Homo sapiens: one gene and its partners. The protein of the gene in region 1 purifies or fractionates together with the protein of each later gene. This does not show direct contact. Each region holds a gene or a part of one and is shown in the gene's direction. Other genes may lie near its edges. The genes, in order: TFEB, TRIM16, EML4, GPNMB, FBXL5 and TBC1D14.

The links.
Region 2: the proteins of TFEB (region 1) and TRIM16 purify together in Homo sapiens (affinity purification with western blotting; one study listed by BioGRID). This does not show direct contact.
Region 3: the proteins of TFEB (region 1) and EML4 purify together in Homo sapiens (affinity purification with mass spectrometry; one large-scale study listed by BioGRID and IntAct). This does not show direct contact.
Region 4: the proteins of TFEB (region 1) and GPNMB purify together in Homo sapiens (affinity purification with mass spectrometry; one large-scale study listed by BioGRID and IntAct). This does not show direct contact.
Region 5: the proteins of TFEB (region 1) and FBXL5 purify together in Homo sapiens (affinity purification with western blotting; one study listed by BioGRID). This does not show direct contact.
Region 6: the proteins of TFEB (region 1) and TBC1D14 purify together in Homo sapiens (affinity purification with mass spectrometry; one large-scale study listed by BioGRID and IntAct). This does not show direct contact.

Annotation. Positions count from the first base shown.
Region 1 is NC_000006.12:41,687,109-41,690,608, reverse strand, and holds part of TFEB (transcription factor EB), read left to right. Parts: intron 1-797; coding exon 798-878; intron 879-2,580; coding exon 2,581-2,701; intron 2,702-2,799; coding exon 2,800-2,856; intron 2,857-3,439; coding exon 3,440-3,500. UniProt on the Homo sapiens protein: Transcription factor that acts as a master regulator of lysosomal biogenesis, autophagy, lysosomal exocytosis, lipid catabolism, energy metabolism and immune response.
Region 2 is NC_000017.11:15,677,812-15,681,311, reverse strand, and holds part of TRIM16 (tripartite motif-containing protein 16), read left to right. Parts: intron 1-358; coding exon of another isoform or gene 359-447; intron 448-3,500.
Region 3 is NC_000002.12:42,301,853-42,305,352, forward strand, and holds part of EML4 (echinoderm microtubule-associated protein-like 4), read left to right. Parts: intron 1-1,251; coding exon 1,252-1,377; intron 1,378-1,462; coding exon 1,463-1,594; intron 1,595-2,631; coding exon 2,632-2,699; intron 2,700-3,500. UniProt on the Homo sapiens protein: Essential for the formation and stability of microtubules (MTs). Required for the organization of the mitotic spindle and for the proper attachment of kinetochores to MTs. Promotes the recruitment of NUDC to the mitotic spindle for mitotic progression.
Region 4 is NC_000007.14:23,260,275-23,263,774, forward strand, and holds part of GPNMB (transmembrane glycoprotein NMB isoform b precursor), read left to right. Parts: intron 1-181; coding exon 182-499; intron 500-3,500. UniProt on the Homo sapiens protein: Could be a melanogenic enzyme.
Region 5 is NC_000004.12:15,645,358-15,648,857, reverse strand, and holds part of FBXL5 (F-box/LRR-repeat protein 5), read left to right. Parts: intron 1-3,500.
Region 6 is NC_000004.12:6,923,326-6,926,825, forward strand, and holds part of TBC1D14 (TBC1 domain family member 14), read left to right. Parts: intron 1-47; 5' UTR 48-64; coding exon 65-786; intron 787-3,500. UniProt on the Homo sapiens protein: Plays a role in the regulation of starvation-induced autophagosome formation.

The DNA of each region.
Region 1 (3,500 bases):
TGTGCTTCTGAGACTCCCAGTCTAATGGCAGAGGCAGGGGTGCCTTCAGGGAGACTCAGTCTGAGGTGGGGACAGAGCCCTTCTCAGGGAGCCCCAATCTCAGGGGGGAAGACACAGCCCTGCCCTCAGGGAGCCTCACAGAGGAAACGCCATCCTTACTTTCAAAAGCTCTGCTAGGAAGTCAGGTGCCGTGGCTCACGCCTGTAATCCCAGCACTTTGGAAGGCTGAGGCAGCCAGATCACTTGAGGTCAGGAGTTTGAGAACAGCCTGGCCAACATAGTGAAACCCTATCTCTACTAAAATACAAAAATTAGCTGGGCGTGGTGGTGCACGCCTGTAATCCCAGCTACTTGGGAGGCTGAGGCAGGAGAATCACTTGAATCGGGAAGGCGGAAGTTGCAGTGAGCTGAGATCGAGCCACTGCACTTCAGCCTGGGCGACAGAGTGAGACTCCTTCTCGAAAAAAAAAAAAGAAAAAAGAAAAAAGAAAGCTCTGCTAGGGAGAAACAGAAGACTTATCCAGGAAAGCCCAGCACACTCCCCAAGCCAGAGACAGAAGTGAGATCAAGGAAGCTCCCTGGGCAGGTAGGCTCCTTGGCAAGAACCGTAGCTTCATGTTGGGCCAGTGGGACCTGGACAGCTCATCTCTTCTCTGGGCCTATTTCCTCTTTCCCCAGATAAGTAGGTTGGGTGAGGTGGGCTCCAAGGTCCCTCCAGGTCAGTGGTTGTCCCAATGCCTCTTTCCCCTGCCCACCTCGTGGTGGGCCCTCCCCAGATGGACTTTTCTCTTTTCCAGTTGGATGATGTCATTGACAACATTATGCGTCTGGACGATGTCCTTGGCTACATCAATCCTGAAATGCAGATGCCCAACACGGTACTCCTGGCTAGGGTGGGGTGGGTGTGCAAGGGTTCTAGGGAGGGGGGCACCCACTGTGGCTCTGAGCCTGGAGAGAGTGGAGACAGGGTTCTCACTGGGCAGAGCTGGCATGTTTCTGTAGAGATGAGTCATTTTCATTAAATAATGTGACAAAGGCCGGGGCCAAGAGGAATTATGAAGCAAGAAGGATGTGCCTCAGCCTCTGTGCACCATGGGGCTTCAGAGGGGAGAAGGGGCTGGGGACACGGAGTGGGCCTGTGGGGGGAGCTTTCCAGGTTGGCGAAGGGGCAGAGGGAGGCAGGGAGAGCACTGCATGGGTGGAGGGGCAGTGTGTCTATGGGAAGGTGTGGAACTAATGAGCTCCTTTGGGGACCTGGGCCTCCCCTCCTTTACCAAACCCAGGGCCCAACAGGCAAAAGCCTGTCTGTGTCTCTTACTCCATGGGGCAAGTGATCTGGGGCTGGCCTTGTCCCCAACCACAGGAACACTCCCTCTGGCAGCTTCCTGCGTCTCCTGGCAGAGGTGGGGTAGCAGGTGGGGAGGTGCTGGGCTTGGAGTCAAGAAGCCTGGCTTCTGGCTTTTGCTGTGACCTTAGGAAATCCCTCAAGCATACTAAACCCCAGTTTTCTCAGCTGCAAAATGGGGGTGATGCTCTCTACCCACAGGATTGTGGGAAGATTAGATGAGGGAAGAAATTGAGGGCAAGCTCTCTACAAAGGTGGCAGGTGTGTACGCTGGGCAGGTGGGATTGCCAGCGCCCCTTCCACCCACTTTTCTTTGGAGCTCCTGAACCTCAGCTACTTACTCCTGCCTTTGGGCATGAGCCTTTCACCCTGATCCTGGCCCCAGCCCATGCCACCAAGGGAAAGTCCCCAGTTCCTGTGGTGGGGAGTCAATCCTCTGTCCCCACTGCCCTGGTGACATCGCTGAGTGGCTTAGTAGGAGCTGGCCGGGACTGGTTGGGTCCAAACCTACAGCTAGCAGGGGCAGCGAGGGCTGAGGAGGGAGGGAGGATGCAAGTGATTGGTCCCTTTAGTAGTTCCTGTGTACACTGTGGGGTGTCTGGGCCTGTGATTTGTTCTGCATGTTTCTGTGGCAGATCTTTCCAGAGCTCAGATCTCTCCCTGTCAGACTCCTGCTTCAACTTCCCTTGGCTGCCCATTCCAAAATTCCAGTATCTTTGCAAGTCAAACACTGTACTGGGGATCCAGATACATCTGCCCTGCCTACAGCACCTCCACCCCCACCACTTCTGCCCTTGAGCTGCTGGAATTGTGCTCTGCCAAGCTGCCCTGTCTGCTTGTGCCCTGGTGGCTGCCCGGAGTGCCTTGCCTCACATCTCTGCTCAAGACTCAGAGTTCCACACCCTCCAGGAAACCGTCCAGAAACTCTAGAATTGATTAGATGACCTGCTCTAGGGCTTCCATAATGCCTGGGGCCTAATCCTATCACATATTATTGGTTGGATCACTCTCTCAGACACTCTAGGCCAGGGGCTCCTTGAGGGCAGGGACTACATCTTATAATAGCTCTGGACTCTGCAGACCTTCAGGTTGAATTGCTGGGTGAAAGGGCCCAAGGTGAATTTTGACACTCCAGGTGTCCCCAGGAAGGACTGCTCCTGGGATGATAGGCCCTAGAGGGGGCTCCCCGTGGAGAGGGGGATACTCATGGGTCTCCCTCACCCCCTACCCCACAGCTACCCCTGTCCAGCAGCCACCTGAATGTGTACAGCAGCGACCCCCAGGTCACAGCCTCCCTGGTGGGCGTCACCAGCAGCTCCTGCCCTGCGGACCTGACCCAGAAGCGAGAGCTCACAGGTACTGCCTCCCTCTACCCCTGTGCCTTTGAATACCCGACTCCTCCCTCCTTTTCTCCCTCCCTCCCAGCTCCTCTCTCCTTCTCTTTTGGCCTCCAGATGCTGAGAGCAGGGCCCTGGCCAAGGAGCGGCAGAAGAAAGACAATCACAACTTAAGTGAGTCCTGCCCCGCCCCTCTCCCTGCCTCCCTCTTCCTTGTTCTCACCTGGGCTGGCTAAAAAGCCACTCCCTGACCTGCACTGGTGGAAGGCTTCCCTGCTCAAGGCCAATTCACTTGCAGATGGCTTAAGCCCTCCCATTGCTGTCGCTCAGTGGTGCCTGGGACTATTAGTGCTGTCTTTCCACTAGGCCTCTTTAGGAGTGGGTAGGAAGGATTCCTGTAAGGGATATTCATGAAACCCCCAGTTTATCAGGTTGTTTTCTGGGTTAAGGCATGGAACCTGGGGCATCAGAGTTCTGTGTAGCAGGGAAGAGTCCTACCCCAGGCAGCTTTGCTGTGCTACGAGCATCACCATGGCTGATTCTACCTTTCAGTGCTCTTAATTGTGTCTGGCCTTTGCCCTGGACCCCCTAATTCCTGTAGAAATCCCAATCTGTTGGTCACCTCTTACTTCCTGGAAGAACTAAATCTAAGCTGCAGGCTGCCCTGAAGCACCCCTCCCTGGGCTGGGTACTTCTCCCCATGGGGTGGGGGGTCCCCATCCCTCTAATTGCTCCTTCTGGAATCTGTTACCTTTAGTTGAAAGGAGACGAAGGTTCAACATCAATGACCGCATCAAGGAGTTGGGAATGCTGATCCC
Region 2 (3,500 bases), on another chromosome or scaffold:
ACTTTCTCCATTTGCGAATAAAGGAGTTGAGCCTGGAGGTCTTTAAGCACCTCTCCAACTGTAACATTGCACTTCTTGTTTTGTTTTAGGGTTTTTTGGTCCCAGGGAACCTCGTTTTCAGAGCAGTGGCTCACGCAGATCCTGAGCCCAGTTAATGGTCATACCTTTCCCTGAGTTTATGTTCATTCTATCCTCTGAGATTATCTTTGAAGTCTCATTACATAGATGTCTGTAAAATCCTTCAAGCTATGGACAGCCAAGGTCAGAGGCACATTTTCTCATAAGTGGCTGTTTCTAAATTCATAGGTTTGAGATACATAAAGATAAACCAGGTTCCTTTATGTCAATTTCCTTCCAGTTCTGCCCTCTGAGGACCCTGCCCTTTCCCAAAAGGGGTATCTTAAGAAGGAAAATATGGCTGCTCTTTGCCGGACAGCAGAGTCCCAGGTGAGTTGGGGATTTTCCTCTCTTCTTGGAAATTTTATTTTAATTGAGTTGGGGATTTTCCTCTCTTCTCAGAAATCTTATTTTAATTCCTGAAGCAAATTTTTTTTCTCTTAGCATGAAGCTTGTCAACCACATTAGCCACAGCAGTTTGAAAGGAAAGGATCAAGCAGGTGGGATGGACTGCCAATGAGATGGTGTTTGCGTGTTCCTCAGTTGTATGGCAGTAGCAGTGAAGGTCAGGAGGCTTGGTAGCCTCGCCCATCAGTTGGCAGTGTAGAGAAAGGATGGTAGGGGCAGGATGGGAATGAGGCCTCTTTAGCAGATAATTGAGGAGCGTGACTCCTAGAACATGGTTGGGTAAGAATCAAGCTTCTTTTTGTTCACTTGAGACATTTGGCATAGATATGCAAAGGCACGTGAGGCATTTCTTGCTTGCATCTGCTTAGAATATTTTGGGGAGAAAAGATGTACACAAATCTGTGTGGCACAAACCAGCAGATTTATTATTATTAAATAGGGCCTTATTATTAAGGGCCTACTCAATATAAAGTGTCTTAGGGAAAATGCTGTATGGACTTGGAGGAGCAGGAGCAAATGTGTCTGGCTGAGAGAGATTTAGGAAGGTTTTATTCATTCAACTAGCATTTTAAAGTCCTTTTAAGCAGCTCCTAGGCTAATGAAAGTAGTGAGATTTGATGTGGGCCCTGAAAGCTGAGTAAATTCTTGAAAGATTTATAGAAAGTTAGTGACATAAATGACTTAGAATCAAAGCAAGATACTGATTCCTCTGGCACAGGAAAAAAGTCAGTACATTGAAATCACAGAGGTGTTGTTCCACAAAAACTTAAAGGCTTCTTATACTCAAAGTTCTTTCCTAGATATAATTCTCAAGCTTGGCTTATTTCTTTTTTTCTTTTTTTTTTTTTTTGAGACATAGTCTCGCTCTCTCGCCCAGGCTGGAGTGCAGTGGCGCGATCTCAGCTCACTGCAAGCTCCGCCTCCCAGGTTCACTCCATTCTCCTGCCTCAGCCTCCCGAGTAGCTGGGACTACAGGCACCCGCCACCGCGCCCGGCTAATTTTTTGTATTTTTAGTAGAGACAGGGTTTCACCGTGTTAGCCAGGATGGTCTCGATCTCCTGACCTTGTGATCTGCCCGCCTCGGCCTCCCAAAGTGCTGGGATTACAGGCGTGAGCCACCACGCCCGGCCAGCTTGGCCTATTTCTTAGTTTCTTACTTACCATGTGTCTCTCTCAACTTAACTGAAGATAACCTTAAGGCCGGCTAAACAATAGGCTTGGGTGGGAAGGCCACATCCTTAATCTGACATTTTTTTTACAGGGCTAAATCACTTTGTTTAGTTAACAGGTGTAATGGGCCTTTATTGCTCAAAGCTCTTGTTAGACTTACTTCCCACTGTATGAGATCTAGAAACAGTTTGCTTTTCCAACCACGTGAGGCCTCAGATTTCTGCACTCTATTCTCTTTTGTTTTGGCTTGAAAATTGACACATTGTTTCCTGAACTTAACTCATTCTTTGTTCGCCAGACATATCCAGGAGCATTCTACACAAAGAGCGTTCTGGTGCTTTCCAACCTGTTCTAGAGCCACAGGCCCAGTGAGCATTTGCCCTGGCCTCATAGTTGCTAATTAGTTTGCCAGTGTATATTAAGAGTCTGCATCTGTTGGCTGGATGCGGTGGCTCATGCCTGTAATCCCAGCACTTTGGGAGGCCGAGGTGGGCGGATCACCTGAGGTCAGGAGTCTGTGACCAGCCTGGACAACATGGTGAGATCCCGTTTCTACTAAAAATACAAAAAAAAGTAGCTGGGCGTGGTGGCTCACACCTGTAGTCCCAGCTACTCAAGAGGCTGAGGCAGGAGAATCGCTTAAACATGGGAGATGGAGGTTGCGGTAAGCCGAGAGCATCGTGGCCACTGCACTCCAGCAACAGAGTGAGACTCCGTCTCAAAAAAAAAAAAAAAAAGGAGAGTCTGCATTTCTCCAGTCGTAAATATTCTTTTCTTTGAAGCTTGCCACCTGACTGTCAATCCAATGCCACCTGTGTATTTGAACTTTTTATTATGATATCTCCCACTTGAAGGTGCTGATTTCTGAATTAGTTTGGGTTGGCTTACTAATAACTGTTGTAACCAATAGACCCAAAATATATATGGCCTTAATACAATAGAAGTGTATTGTTTGCTGTCATAGCCATGTGAGTGGGTATATAGATTGATAGGATGGCCATTCAGGGACCTGAGCTACCTGAAGCTCTAGCCTCTTTACCATATGGCTTCCAAACTCACTCTGGGGCTCATGGCCCTACCAGCCAGTCAGAAGGGGAAAACAGCATGGAGGAACATACGTGAGTCAGGCCTGGAAAGGGCGCACATCACTCCTGCTTGCATTCCATTGGTTAGGATCTCATGGCCAGGTCTAACTACAGGAGGTTGGGAAATGTTTGTATACCTAGAAAGGAGAGGAGGAGGCATATTTTCATGGACAGTTAGCAGCTCGTAGCACTGTTCTCAAACATTTAGGTTATTTAGAACGATTTTGCTATTTTTCTATTGTAAGGTATAAATAGATGTGATTCTTTGTTTATAACTCTCCATATTTCTGATAGTTTTCTTTTTTTTTTTTTGAGACACAGTCTCGTTCTGTTGCCCAGGCTGGAGTGCAATGGCGTGATCTCGGCTCACTGCAAGCTTCGCCTCCCGGGTTCACGCCATTCTCCTGCTTCAGCCTCCCGAATAGCTGGGACTACAGGCGCCCACCACCATGCCTGGCTAATTTTTTTTGTATTTATAGTAGAGATGGGGTTTCACCATGTTAGCCAGGATGGTCTCGATCTCCTGACCTCGTGATCTGCCCACCTCGGCCTCCCAAAGTGCTGGGATTACAGGCGTGAGCCACTGCACCCAGCCGATAGTTTTCTTATAATTGAGTTCTGTATATAAAATTACTGTAAAACAAAACTATCAAATTATGTCAGAGGGGTATACACATTTTAAGATTTTAAGATTCTTTAATATACGAGTCAATAAAATC
Region 3 (3,500 bases), on another chromosome or scaffold:
AAAATGCAACTTCCATCACTGTTTTCTTCACAGATAACTCATATCCTTTGTTAATAAAAGCTATACAATCTAGTTCACTCCTTCCTTTCCCATTTCTAATGTAAATTTGGATTCCTCTTAGAGTTCAGTTATTTGTATTTTTAGGAGTAATTTTAGATCCCACTTGATAAAGTGGGATTTATAATTCCATTATTTCAGAATCATTCTTTGAGATTATTATTAAATGTATTAACACAGCATTCACTGAGATTGTTCCATGTATTGCATTAAATGAAATTGCTCTCCCAAGGAATCCTATTATTATAATACTTTATAATATATTGTTTTTTAATTTACAGAGAACTTCCACATTACATTTTTTTAATTGACACATTGTAATTGAACATATTTATGGGATACAATCTGATGTTTTGATGCAGATATGCTGTATAGTAATCCAGTCAGGGTAGTTAGTATGTCTGTTGCCTCATGCATTTATCATTTTTTTGTGGTGAGAATATTTTTATATTTTGATCCTTACAACAATCAAGAGTGGGTAGGGCATGTATTATTATCCTTATATTACAGAAAATGTTTCTTAGGCTAAGTAACTTACCCAAAGTAATGTAACTAATATAACTAATAAGTAACAAAACCCGACCACATTCTTCATGTGATTTCATGTGAGCTAATAGAACTTACTTCTTTTTTTTTTTTTTTGAGACAGAGTCTTGCTCTGTCGCCCAGGCTGGAATACAGTGGCCCAGTCTTGGCTAACTGCAACCTCTGCCTCCCGGATTCAAGCAATTCTCCTGCCTCAGCCTCCTCAGTAGCTGGGATTATAGGCGCCCGCCACCGCACCTGGCTGATTTTTATATTTTTAGTAGAGACAGGGTTTCACCATGTTGGCCAGGCTGGTCTCGAACTCCTGACCTCAGGTGATCCACCCGCATTGGCCTCCAAATGTGCTGGGATTACAGGTGTGAGCCACCATGCCCAGCCTTTTTTCCCTGTTCTTAACCCTTAACTCCTAAAGTCATATAAAATATACGTTTAAAATTAACTGAAGCAAAGAATGTTGATAATTATTATAACTTCTGTATAATAAAATGTCATTGGACAAATAAATTAGTAGTAGTATGAGATTACCATATCCAAATTTGGGCTTTCGTCATAATTACCTCATAATTGCTTACAGCTATAAATGCAGGCTTCGAGTAGTAATTAATGCATATTAGTATGTATATGGTGACTTTACACTTTTTTTTCTAGGTTCCTGATCAGTATGGCACAATCAGAGCTGTAGCAGAAGGAAAGGCAGATCAATTTTTAGTAGGCACATCACGAAACTTTATTTTACGAGGAACATTTAATGATGGCTTCCAAATAGAAGTACAGGTAAGCTGTGTGATATTAACCGTTAACTGAATATTTTTTATGATATTCTTTGGTTCTTATAACAATGAGTGTCTTTCATTTTCAGGGTCATACAGATGAGCTTTGGGGTCTTGCCACACATCCCTTCAAAGATTTGCTCTTGACATGTGCTCAGGACAGGCAGGTGTGCCTGTGGAACTCAATGGAACACAGGCTGGAATGGACCAGGCTGGTAGATGTGAGTGAAGCAGGATGTGATTATTAACCTCCCCACAGAAACTCCTCACACTGGCAGTTGAGAGCAGCAAAGTAAAAAGGACTAAGTGTTGATTCAAACCAAATGTAAACATATGGTTTAGTAATAGAGGGTGGAGATAAGAGGGTAGCGTTTAGTCTTAAAGTGTGAACATGAACCGATTTTAAAGAAGTAAGTTAGGCCGGGCAAGGTGGCTCACACCTGTAATCCCAGCACTTTGGGAGGCCCAGGCAGGCGGATCACGAGGTCAGGAGATCGAGACCATCCTGGCTAACACGGTGAAGCCCTGTCTCTAGTAAAAATACAAAAAATTAGCCAGGCGTGGTGGTGGGCGCCTGTAGTCCCAGCTACTCGAGAGGCTGAGGCAGGAGAATGGCATGAACCCGGGAGGCGGAGCTTGCAGTGAGCCGAGATCGTGCCAGTGCACTCCAGCCTGGGCAACAGAGCGAGACTCCGTCTCAAAAAATAAAAAATAGAAGAAGTAAGTTAGCAGCGTAAAAGCTCAATTTGTCCATCAGCTTCAGTAGTAAAATCATAAAGATTTCAAATATCTACATAGCATTAATTATTATGGAAACATTTGTGCCTCGGGTGGCATTGCAGTTGGATTCAGTAAGTGCTGCTCACTAACAGGCTCTACTGTCTTCTTTCTGGGTGGTCTCTTACTGTATTTTCTCTCTACCCAACCCAGATATCCACCTTCTCTAGCCCAAGAGGTGTATATAAGTTCTTTGTGGATGCTAAAGAACTGTACCAGTGTTTGTTGTTATTATCCTTATTATTGTTCCACTCCCTAGCCACAAGCTGGTTGTCCCTTTCCCTCACCACTCTGCCAGCATATCCCCTTCATGCTCTGAAATTCTTTTTCCTCTCATATCTGTGTGGTATTTCTCATTAGCTACAAAGTTGATTGAAATGTTATGTTTGAATGAAACAGGTTATTTTCAGAAGTTTTTGCTACTGTCCCCATAGGGAGACTTTCTCATGTACTCCCCAACAGCTGTCTGTCTCTTTTCTAGGAACCAGGACACTGTGCAGATTTTCATCCAAGTGGCACAGTGGTGGCCATAGGAACGCACTCAGGCAGGTAGGGTCTTTAAGTGAACTGAGTAATCTGAAGTGGTGGGATGTTTAAATGCTATTCAGGAATGTTCTCAATCTGATCTGGAGAATTAATCTCTTAAGTGGCACACTAATATGCTTGTTGTTCTTATCCGTTTTGTATATTCATAGAATTCAATTATTTATTGAGCACCTGCCTTTTGCGACATGCTACATGCTATTGTGTGTATTCAGAATACATCAGAAAACAAAACAAAAATTCCTGTCCTGTGAAGCCTACATTTTAGCGTGTATGGGACAGAATAAAAAATAAGCCCTGACGCAGCCAGGCACAGTAATCCCAGCACTTTGGGAGGCCAAGGTGGGCGGATCACCTGAGGTCAGGAGTTCGAAACCAGCCTGGCCAATGTAGCGAAACCCCGTCCCTACTAAAAATACAAAAATTAGCCAGGCGCAGTGGCACACACCTGTAATCCCAGCTATTCTGGAGGCTGAGGCAGGAGAATCAGTTGAACCTGGGAGACAGTTGCAGTGAGCCGAGATTGTGCCACTGCGCTCCAGCATGGGCAACAGAGCAAGACTCCATCTCAAAAAAAATAATAAGGCGAGTTGCAGTAGCCCACGCCAGTAATTCCAGTGCTTTGGGAGGCTGAGGCAGGAAGATTGCTTGAGGCCAGGAGTTTGAGACCAGCCTGGGTGAGACACCATCTCTACAAAAAATAAAAATAATAAACATTATCACGAATTATATTAGAAAATGTTAAGAACCATGTGAGGATAGGGAAAATGATGGGAGATTAAGAGGGAGTGCAGTTGCAAAATGATA
Region 4 (3,500 bases), on another chromosome or scaffold:
TTGTAGTTCATCTGTTTTCCAGAATAGCTTAGGGAAACCCCAGAAAACTTGCATGTGAAAAGGAAAATAATGCTAAATTATCCCTCATTTTAATATTTCAACCTAAAAGCATCGTCGAAGCCCTCCACTTACAATCAAGCAATCATGCATTCTTTATTTCTTTGGGGGATGTATCTTTTAGATCAGATTCCTGTGTTTGTGACTATGTTCCAGAAGAACGATCGAAATTCATCCGACGAAACCTTCCTCAAAGATCTCCCCATTATGTTTGATGTCCTGATTCATGATCCTAGCCACTTCCTCAATTATTCTACCATTAACTACAAGTGGAGCTTCGGGGATAATACTGGCCTGTTTGTTTCCACCAATCATACTGTGAATCACACGTATGTGCTCAATGGAACCTTCAGCCTTAACCTCACTGTGAAAGCTGCAGCACCAGGACCTTGTCCGCCACCGCCACCACCACCCAGACCTTCAAAACCCACCCCTTCTTTAGGTAAGGTTTCGCAGTGATCTTTGAGGGAGGCTCCTTAATGGCTAACAAAATATTCACGCAGGTCATATTATTAAATCCCTCCTTAAGGGGATATTGTAAGGACTCTGCGGTGATTCCATTTTCTACCTGTTGATTTTTTAAAGCAAAGTTATCACCATTTTACACCTATAGAACACAGAAGAAGGAAGAATGTATGTAAAGTCACTTTGCAAATAGAATTCAGTGACTTGTAGAAAGTTCTTTGACCCTCCTCATTTGCACTGGTCCCTGCTATGTGTACACACTCTCCCCTCTTCTAACCTGTCACATTTTTGTTTATCTCCCATTTTTTATGGCTATGAGAAGGCACACTGGCTCCTTATACGATCAGGTCATTTCTATGTTCCTTCCTCTCCCCCACTAATTTCTTTCCCTACCCTGCCCACACCTACCCAGTGTCCATGAAAACACAGCTGTACTTGAAAGCAATTTCCAAATGGTCCAAGAAAGAATGTAGCTTGAGAGTATGTCTGGGTTAGCAAGCTGCAGTGACTCCTGACATTAAAATTGTGCTGCATCGTATGTTTATTGCGGCACTATTCACAATAGCAAAGACTTGGAATGAACCCAAATGTCCATCAATGATAGACTGGATTAAGAAAATGTGGCACATATACACCATAGAATACTATGCAGTCATAAAAAAGGATGAGTTCATGTCCTTTGTAGGAACATGGATGAAGCTGGAAACCATCATTCTGAGCAAACTATCACAAGGACAGAAAACCAAACGCCGCATGTTCTCATTCACAGGTGGGAACTGAACAATGAGAACACTTGGACACAGGGCGGGGAACATCACACACCAGGGCCTGTCGGGGGGTAGGGGTAGGGAGGCGGGATGGCATTAACAGAAATACCTATTGTAAATGACGAGTTAATGGGTGCAGCACACCAACATGGCACATGTATACATATGTAACAAACCTGCACTTTGTGCACATGTACCCTAGAACTTAAAGTAAAATTTAAAAAAAAGAGAAAAATAAATAAAAATAAAACTGTGCTGCATTTAAGGCATGATTAATTCAATACCACCCTATATTAATAGTCTGGGGACATTCAAGAAGTCCTTAAGAGTCCACTTTGGGTAGCACTGGCTTCCATCTGATTCCCCACGCTACCCCATGCCATCACCACCCTTTTCCCACTGGGCCAGTTGCACTCAGCACCCCAGGATCCTGGGGATAGCAATAGGCTGACATCCTCTCACTGGTCACAAGAGGGCGCCAGGGACCAAGCCCACGACGGTCCATCATGACGTCTGGGGCTTCTTGTTTTTACAAAATCCTGTTTGTTATAAATTATAAAGTTTTACAATAAGATGTTAGTAATAAAATGAGAGCTTGTTAAATCAAGCATATCTAAGTCAAGACAACACAAGTTATCACTGATTTCGATTATCTCAAAAATGTTTTAAATTACAAAGTTTATGCATGTTCCTTAGTAAAAATTAAAACAATGTAGATGTCTAGAGTAAAAAGCAAAAGTCCCCACTCGTACTCTCCTCCCAAGAGTTAAACCCTGTTAATAATTGGGAGGATTTCTTTCCAGATATTTTTCTATGCATTTATAAACATATACTATATATACACATAAGGTTTGTTTTGGTTGTGTAAATGGGTTCATTTACACAAGAGGGCTATTCATATTGTTTTACAATTTGCTCTTTTTCTAATTTAACAAACATTATAGACATCTTTCCACTGTTAATACATATAAGTCTATCTCACTTTATCCAGTGGCTGCATAGTGTTTCATAGAATGTATGTACTGTCATTTATTTCACCATTCTCTTTTTTTTTTTTTTTTTTTTTTTTTTTTGAGACAGCGTCTTGCTCTAACACCCAGGCTGGAGTGCAGTGGCACAATCTTGGCTCACTGCAACCTCCACCTCCTGGACTCAAGTGATCCTTCTGCCTCAGCCTCCCAAGTGGCTGTGGCTACAGGCATACACAACCACACCCAGCTAATTTTTTTATTTTTTAGTAGAGATGGGGTTTCGCCGTGTTGCCCAGGCTGGTCTCCAACTCTTGAGCACAGGTGATCTACCCACCCCAGCCTTCCAAAGTGCTGGGATTATAAGCGTGAGGCACTGTGCCCGGCCCACCATTCTCTTATTGATGGATGATTAGATTAATCCTAATTCCAACTACAATTATAACTGTATTGAACAACTTTAAATATACAGCTTCATTCTAGTAATCCTTTAGGAGAAGCAATTTTTTTTATCTACAACTATTAATGATCTTCTTTACAAATAAGAGGACCAGGTATAAAATTCAAAATAAATTACAGATGCTTTTAATATTTAAGTTCCAGAATGGTAAAAGACTTAATGTTAGGTTGTTTAATGTTAGTCTACTTTGAATTGCATTTTTATTAAACTAGCTTGTTTTTCTTATAAACTATTTATATCATAGCATGTTTTAAAAATATATTTGAAGCCAATGAAAAGCTATTTAAAATTTCTGTTGTAATTTCTCCCTAGGTGACACCATAAGATATAAACTAGTGGGCCAGGCATGGTGGCTCACATCTGTAATCCCAGCACTTTGGGAGGCCGAGGCAGGTGGATCACCTGAGGTCAGGAGTTCGAGACCAGCCTGGTCAACATGGTGAAACCCCGTCTCTACCGAAAATATAAAAATTAGCCGGGTGTGGTGGAGAGTGTCTGTAATCCCAGCTACTTGGGAGGCTGAGGCAGAAGAATCGCTTGAACCTGGGAGGTGGAGGTTGCAGTGAGCCGAGATCGCGCCATTGCACTCCAGCCTGGGCGACAAGAGAGAAACTCTGTCTCAAAAAAAAAAAAAAAAAAAGATATAAACTAGCAACCCCTACAAGTTAGTTAAGTTTTATTGCGAAGGAAAGCTGCCTGGCTTTATCTAAAGGTGTTAGATCAATCATAATCAACCCCAAAATGCCTTAAACCAGCATCTCTCTTAGGGAGAGCGAGGAGGGA
Region 5 (3,500 bases), on another chromosome or scaffold:
CAGAGGATGTACTCTCAGCAAATTTCAAGTACATAATACAGTATTATTAGCTATAGTCACCATACTGTACCTTATATCCCCAGAACGTACTCATCTTAGAACTGAAAGTTAGTGTTCTTTTTTCAGCATCTCCCCATTTTCTCCATCCCCTGCCCCAACAACCACCTTTCATATTCTCTGCTTCTGTGAGTTCTACTTTAGATTCCATATATAGTGAGATCATACATTATTTATCTCTCTGTCTCTGGCTTATTTCACTTAGCTGTCTTCCAGGTTCATCTATGTTGTTGCAAATGACAGGATTTCCTTTTTTATGACTGAATAATATTTTATTGTATATATCACATTTTCTTTACTCATTTGTGGACAAGCACTCAGGTTGGCTCCATATCTTGGCTATTATGAATAATGCTGCATTGAACATGGGAGTGCAGATATCTCTTAGAGATCCTAATTTTATTTACTTTGAACATATACTCAGGAATGGGATTGCTGGAACTTATGAAAATTACATTTTTAATTTTTTGAGGAATTTCCATACTGTTTTCCATAATGGCTGTACCAATTCCTTTCTAATGATATTTTATTTTGGTCTGAATACAGAATTAATAACAGAAAAGCCTACTAAATAAGCCTTACAGATGCCTAGGTAGGGCTTATATTCTGTGTTCTTTATATTAACTTATTAAATTATCACAGGTAGCCAGGTGCAGTGGCTTGTGCCTATAATCTCAGCAACTCAGGATGCTGAGTCAGGAGGATCGCTTGAAGCCAGGACTTTAAGACCAGCTTGGCCAACATAGTGAGACCCCGTCTCTAAAAAATAAAAAAGTAACTGGGTGTGGTGCACACCACACCTGTAGTTCCAGCTATTCGGAAGGCTGAGGCCAGCAGGAGGATCACTTGAGCCCAGGAGTTTGAGGTTGCAGTGAGCTATGATCATGCCACTGCACTGCAGCCTGGGTGTCAGAGCAAGACCCTGTCTCAAAAAAATTCTCACAAGAACTCTGTGAAGTAGTTAATATTATTAGCCCTGTTTTACAGATGAAGAAACTGAGGTACAAAGAAATGTAATGACTTGCTGGTAGAATGGATTTACACCTAGGCAATCTTGCCCTAGAGTCAGTGCTTTTAACTACTGTGCTAGGTTAGCTGGATATAGATTCTACCTGTAATTTAGAGTCTCTTTATATAGTTACTATAGTTAATTTGACTGTCAGTTTGTGGCATGAAACTAATCTTTACCTTAATGTGTTATTAGATCTAAAAGAATTTCTAATAGTCTAATGAGAATATATGCAAAATTCCCTGTATGTCTTTTAATATATTATTTTTCTTAACTCATGTTAGGGCATTACAGTCTTCCCTTGGTATCCTCCTATTTTGTGGGAGATTGTTTTCAGGACACCCATGAATACCAAACTCCATAGATGCTCAAGTCCCTCAGATAAAATAGCATAGTATTTGCATGTAACTTACACATATCTTCCCATACACTTTAAATCATCTTTAGATTACTTATAATACATAATACAGTGAAAATGCTATGTATGTAGTTGTTATATTGTTTTTTGTTGTTGTTGTTTATTTTTATTTTTTTCAACATTTTCTTTCTTTTTTTTTTTTTTTTTTTTTGAGATGGAGTCTTGCTTTGTTGCCCAGGCTGGAGTGCAGTGGCATGATCTCGGCTCACTGCAACCTCTGCCTCCTGGGTTCAAGTGATTCTCCTGTCTCAGCCTCCCGAGTAGCTGGGACTACAGGTGCACACCACCACTCCCTGCTAATTTTTGTGTTTTTAGTAGAGATGGGGTTTCACCATGTTGGTCAGGCTGGTCTCGAACTCCTGACCTCAGGTAATCCACTCACCTCAGCCTCTCAAAGTGCTGGGATTACAGGTGTGAGCCACCATGCCCAGCCTTTTTCAATCCACAGTTGGTTGAATCTGTGGTTTCTGCATCCCCACGGAGGCTGACTGTGTTTACTTTTTGCCATTAAAAAAATAATATCTAGAAGCTGGAAACCATCATTCTCAGCAAACTGTCGCAAGGACAAAAAAACCAAACACCGCATGTTCTCACTCATAGTGGGAATTGAACAATGAGAACAACATGGACGTGGGAAGGGGAACATCACACACCGGGGCCTGTTGTGGGGTGGGGGGAGGGGGAGGGATAGCATTGGGAGATATACCTAATGTTAGATGACGGGTTAATGGGTGCAGCACACCAACATGGCACATGTATACATATGTAACAAACCTGCACGTTGTGCACATGTACCTAAAACTTAAAGTATAATAATAATAATAATAAAAAATATTTAGCATTAATGGTTTCTTTTGATTTTGTACCCTGCTTCTACTAAGGCTATTTTTAAGTTTGCCTTTTTTTTTTTTTCCAAAAAATGATACATGATAGTGTTTGCAGAGATTAGCCACCAATAGATTTTATTGTAATCTTGTGGGGCATTTCTTATGATTTAAAAAAAAATCTATAATATGTATTTAACCAAGTATGTCCTGCCTGTGTTTTTTGTGTGGCTTAAGAGCCAAGCATCACTTTTACATTTTTAAATAGTTGGAAAAAATCAAAAGAAGAATAGTATTTTGTGACATGTGAAAAATTATATGAAATTTGAATTTCAGTGTTTATAAAGTTTTATGGAAATACAGCTACAGTCATTCATTTACATGTTGTCTATGACTACTTTTGTGCTACAACTGCTGAGGTAAATAATTGCTACAGACCACATGGCCTGCAAAAGTTAAAATATTTATTACCTGTCCTTTTATAGAAAAGTTGCCAATTCTTGCTCTAGATTATTTACTTATGTATTGCAGTTAACTGTTCATTGTCTTATTTACCTTCACTGAAATGGAAACTCCATAAAGGCAAGAAATCTTTGTTTTGTTCATTGATATATCCCAGGTACCAAAGAACAGTGCCTGCCTCATCATAGCTACTCAGTAAATATTTGTATAGAGTAAAAAATGTATGAATTTATAAAAAATGAATATTTAATTTTCAAAATGATAATAGCTAATGTTTATTGAGTACTAACAACCATGTGAAATACAGATGTTTTATTATATCCATTTAACATCAAGATTAACACATTAAGAAAGAAAAGTAGGCCGGGCGTGGTAGCTTATACCTGTAATCCCAGCACTTTGGGAGGCCGAGGCGGGTGGATCATGTGGTCAGGAGTTCAAGACCAGCCTGGCCAAGATGGTGAAACCCCATCTCTGCTAAAAAATACAAAAATTAGCCGGGCGTGGTGGCGAGCACCTGTAATCCCAGCTACTCAGGAGGCTGAGGCAGGATAATCGCTTGAACCCAGGAGGCAGAGTCTGCAGTGAGCTGAGATCATGCCCCTGCACTCTAGCCTGGGCGACAAAGCAAGACTCTGTCTCAAAAAAAAAGAAAGAAAGAAAAGTAACTTACCCAGGGTTACACAGTTAAGTAATGGTAGAACTGGTATCCCATCCTAGAGAATGTGAC
Region 6 (3,500 bases), on another chromosome or scaffold:
TTTGAATTTTATATCCACTTTAATTTCCATGTTTGTGTTTTTTCTAGTTTCTCCTTGGACCAAGATGACTGATGGAAAACTCTCCACCTCTACAAATGGCGTAGCCTTCATGGGTATTCTGGATGGTCGACCAGGAAACCCCCTTCAGAACCTGCAACACGTCAATCTCAAGGCGCCCCGACTCCTCTCCGCGCCTGAGTACGGGCCCAAGCTGAAACTCAGGGCTTTAGAAGACCGGCACAGCCTCCAGTCCGTGGACTCGGGGATTCCTACCCTGGAGATCGGGAACCCGGAGCCTGTACCCTGCAGCGCGGTCCACGTGAGGAGGAAGCAGTCCGACTCCGACCTCATCCCCGAGCGGGCCTTCCAGAGCGCCTGCGCGCTGCCATCCTGTGCGCCACCAGCTCCTAGCAGCACCGAGCGGGAACAGAGCGTGCGCAAATCCTCCACGTTTCCCAGGACAGGCTATGACTCGGTAAAGCTCTATAGCCCGACCTCCAAAGCCCTGACCCGCAGCGATGATGTCTCCGTCTGCAGCGTGTCCAGTCTTGGGACAGAGCTGTCCACCACGCTGTCCGTCAGCAATGAGGACATCTTGGACCTTGTGGTCACGAGCAGCTCCAGTGCCATTGTGACCCTGGAGAATGACGATGACCCACAGTTTACCAACGTCACCTTGAGCTCTATCAAGGAAACCCGTGGCTTACACCAGCAGGACTGTGTTCATGAAGCTGAGGAGGGGAGTAAATTGAAAATATTGGGGCCATTTAGTAACTTCTTTGCAAGGTAATGCCATCTTTGCCCTCTAGAAGATCGTGGTGGTTGAGTCCAGACCAGTCTCCTTGTTCCTGTCTCAAATGTGTTGTGTGTTCTCTGTGGTGTTAGGCAGGCACTGTCTCACACAGATAATTGGGTCTTTTCCCAGAAGCCCGGAATCCTGTGGGATTGTGAGAACTGGTCTGTTGGGGATTCTGTTCTTCGGTGTCCCTGGCTCATTTGCAGTCTGTTGTCACATCTCTGCCTCTGACCTGCTGTGGCTGTCCCACAGGTGGCCAGTGTTACCAAATCAGCAGCCTGAGCCTCTGCGGGGCCCTGTGCACTCATAACTTAACGTTTCTTGGGCCAAGCAGAGGGCACTGGTGAGGGTGACGCCAGTGAGTAACTCTCATTTCTACTGCCAGCCCCTGCTGGCATAGTGCAGTGCTGGCATGCCGGGTGTTCCAGCCGTGTCCCCGTGCCCCTGGATGGCTGTGCTCTCGTGTGCCTGTCCTGGCCCTGCCTCTGCTGTGGAGGTGTGTGCTCTGCTGCACTGCAGCCCCATGCATTCCCAACGTGCTGGGCCTGGCCATGCACTCCGTCCCCATGGGGCCTTGTCACCTGAGTGCTGGAGTTCCTGTGTCTCCCTGAAGCCCTGGGGGGGCCGCGCCTTCAGCTTCTGCCTCTCGTTTGTGCTCTCATGCTTTTGTTCAACAAGTGCCTATTTCCTAGGCCCTGTTCTAGGCTGGTCATGTGGGGTAATACGGTGAGAGAAACGATGTTGGGTCATGACTTAGGGTGGGCTTGTGGCCTGGGGGTGGTGGGAGTGGACACCTTCGTCACACAAGCAAATGTGAACTCCCGAACGGTGGCGTGCTGGGAGGAAGGGCACAGGGGCTGTGGAGAGTACGTGTAGAATTGAGATCTGTGGCTGGGTGCAGTGGGTCACTCCTGTAATCTCAACACTTTGGGAGGCTGAGGTGGGTGGAGCACCTGAGGTCCGGAGTTCGAGACCAGTCTGGCCAACATGGCAAAACCCCGTCTCTACTAAAAATACAAAAATTAGCCAGGTATGGTGGTGCACGCCTGTATTCCCAGCTACTTGGGAGGAGGAGGCAGAGGTTGCGGTGAGCCGAGATCGCGCCACCGCACTCCAGCCTGGGCGACAGAATGAGACTCCATCTCAAAAAAACAAACAAACAAAAAAAGAATCGTGATCTGCTCCATAGCTGCTCTTTGGAGGGCTCTGGGGCCGGGGCTTGGCAGGTGGGAACATTTCTGCAGTTGACCCTGGCTGCCCCGTGTGTGTGTCTCTAGCAGAACCCACGTCAGACATTGCAGTACCGGGTGTCCCTTTGAGATGGTGTGGTGTGCCGGCTGGAGTCAGCTGGCGACTCTGACTGTGGCCAACACATTACCACTGCCTTAGTTGCTTCATCAACTAAAGGGGATCATCTCGGACCAGCCTAAGGCCAGTCCTGAGTGAGATGATCTGTGGTGTGGTCTGTGGTTTTGTCGGGAAACTTTCTTCTCGAATGTGCTGACAGATAGGTATCTTGGTACCATGAGCACAGTTCCTGGTCTCAGAATGCAGTAACTCAGCGATTGCCCTCAGTGGGAGGAACCTGGGAACTTTGGGGGAGATCTTGTCACTATCCCTTCTGAGGCTGTAGCCATATCGCGGTGTTGCTGTGGTTAGATTTGTGTGGCGGAACTTCCCCGTGCTCAGACGAGTGTGTTCAACTGTCCCTGCTTATGAACAACACCTGGTACCCGTTCCACGCGGACCTCAGGATCCATCCAGACATACAGAATCAGAAGCTCAGCGAGAAGGGCCTGAGGATGGGTTTTCAGAAATGTGGGAAACCTTGCTTGAAATGGGTTTGGCCGGGAAACAGCATGGTGGAAGGAGTGTGGCTTTGGAATTCAACCGACCTGTGCCATGTCCAGCTCTGTGCCCTTGAACAAGTTCCTTCACCTCCCAGTCAGTTTTCTCACCCCTAGAACCGTGCGCGGAGGAGCGTGGCCCGTGTGCCCATTATGCTGTTGACGAACGCCACACGCTCACCTTTGTCCTCGCACGTTCTGTCTCCGCTGCCTCACCTGAGAAGTGGGGATAATGAGCCCTTCCTTCCGTGGCAGTGGGGATTAAAATGGGTTAGCATGTGAGAAATTTAATGCAGATCCAGACACGTAGTAAACTTTTAAGTATGAGTTGCTTGTGGCGATCATGGCCACGTTGCTCTTTCTGCCGCCGTTGTGATTCAGCTGACTGAGCTGTGTATATTGGATTCTCTTCCCCTTTGAAAGGAAGCATCGTTGGTTATGCAATTTCTAGATCATTTCTAAAGCTACCGTTTCTTGGAAGTCATACTCAGCTTTGTGCTGCAGGAAACAAGTGTCTCTTCTTTTATTCCTTGGTTCCTTATCCTCGTTGTGATGGCTGTGACATTGTTATTGTGAGCCTCTCTGAACTACCTTTGGGAAGATAATGGAATATAATGAAAAATGACTTAAAACAAGTGATGACATGGGCAGAGTCTAGGGTTCTTTTGTCCTAGAGTCTTAAAAATGTTAGAGAAGAGTTTCCATGTAGAGTTCCTTTGAGGGGAAAGGGTTTCTGTGCCAGAATCTTTAGAGCTCACTAAACATTTTACAGGTGAGTAAATGGAGTTACAGTGAATGTTCATCAATTCAGCCCAGGGCCTGGCCCACAGCAGGTACCCAGAGGACTGTGGGCATCG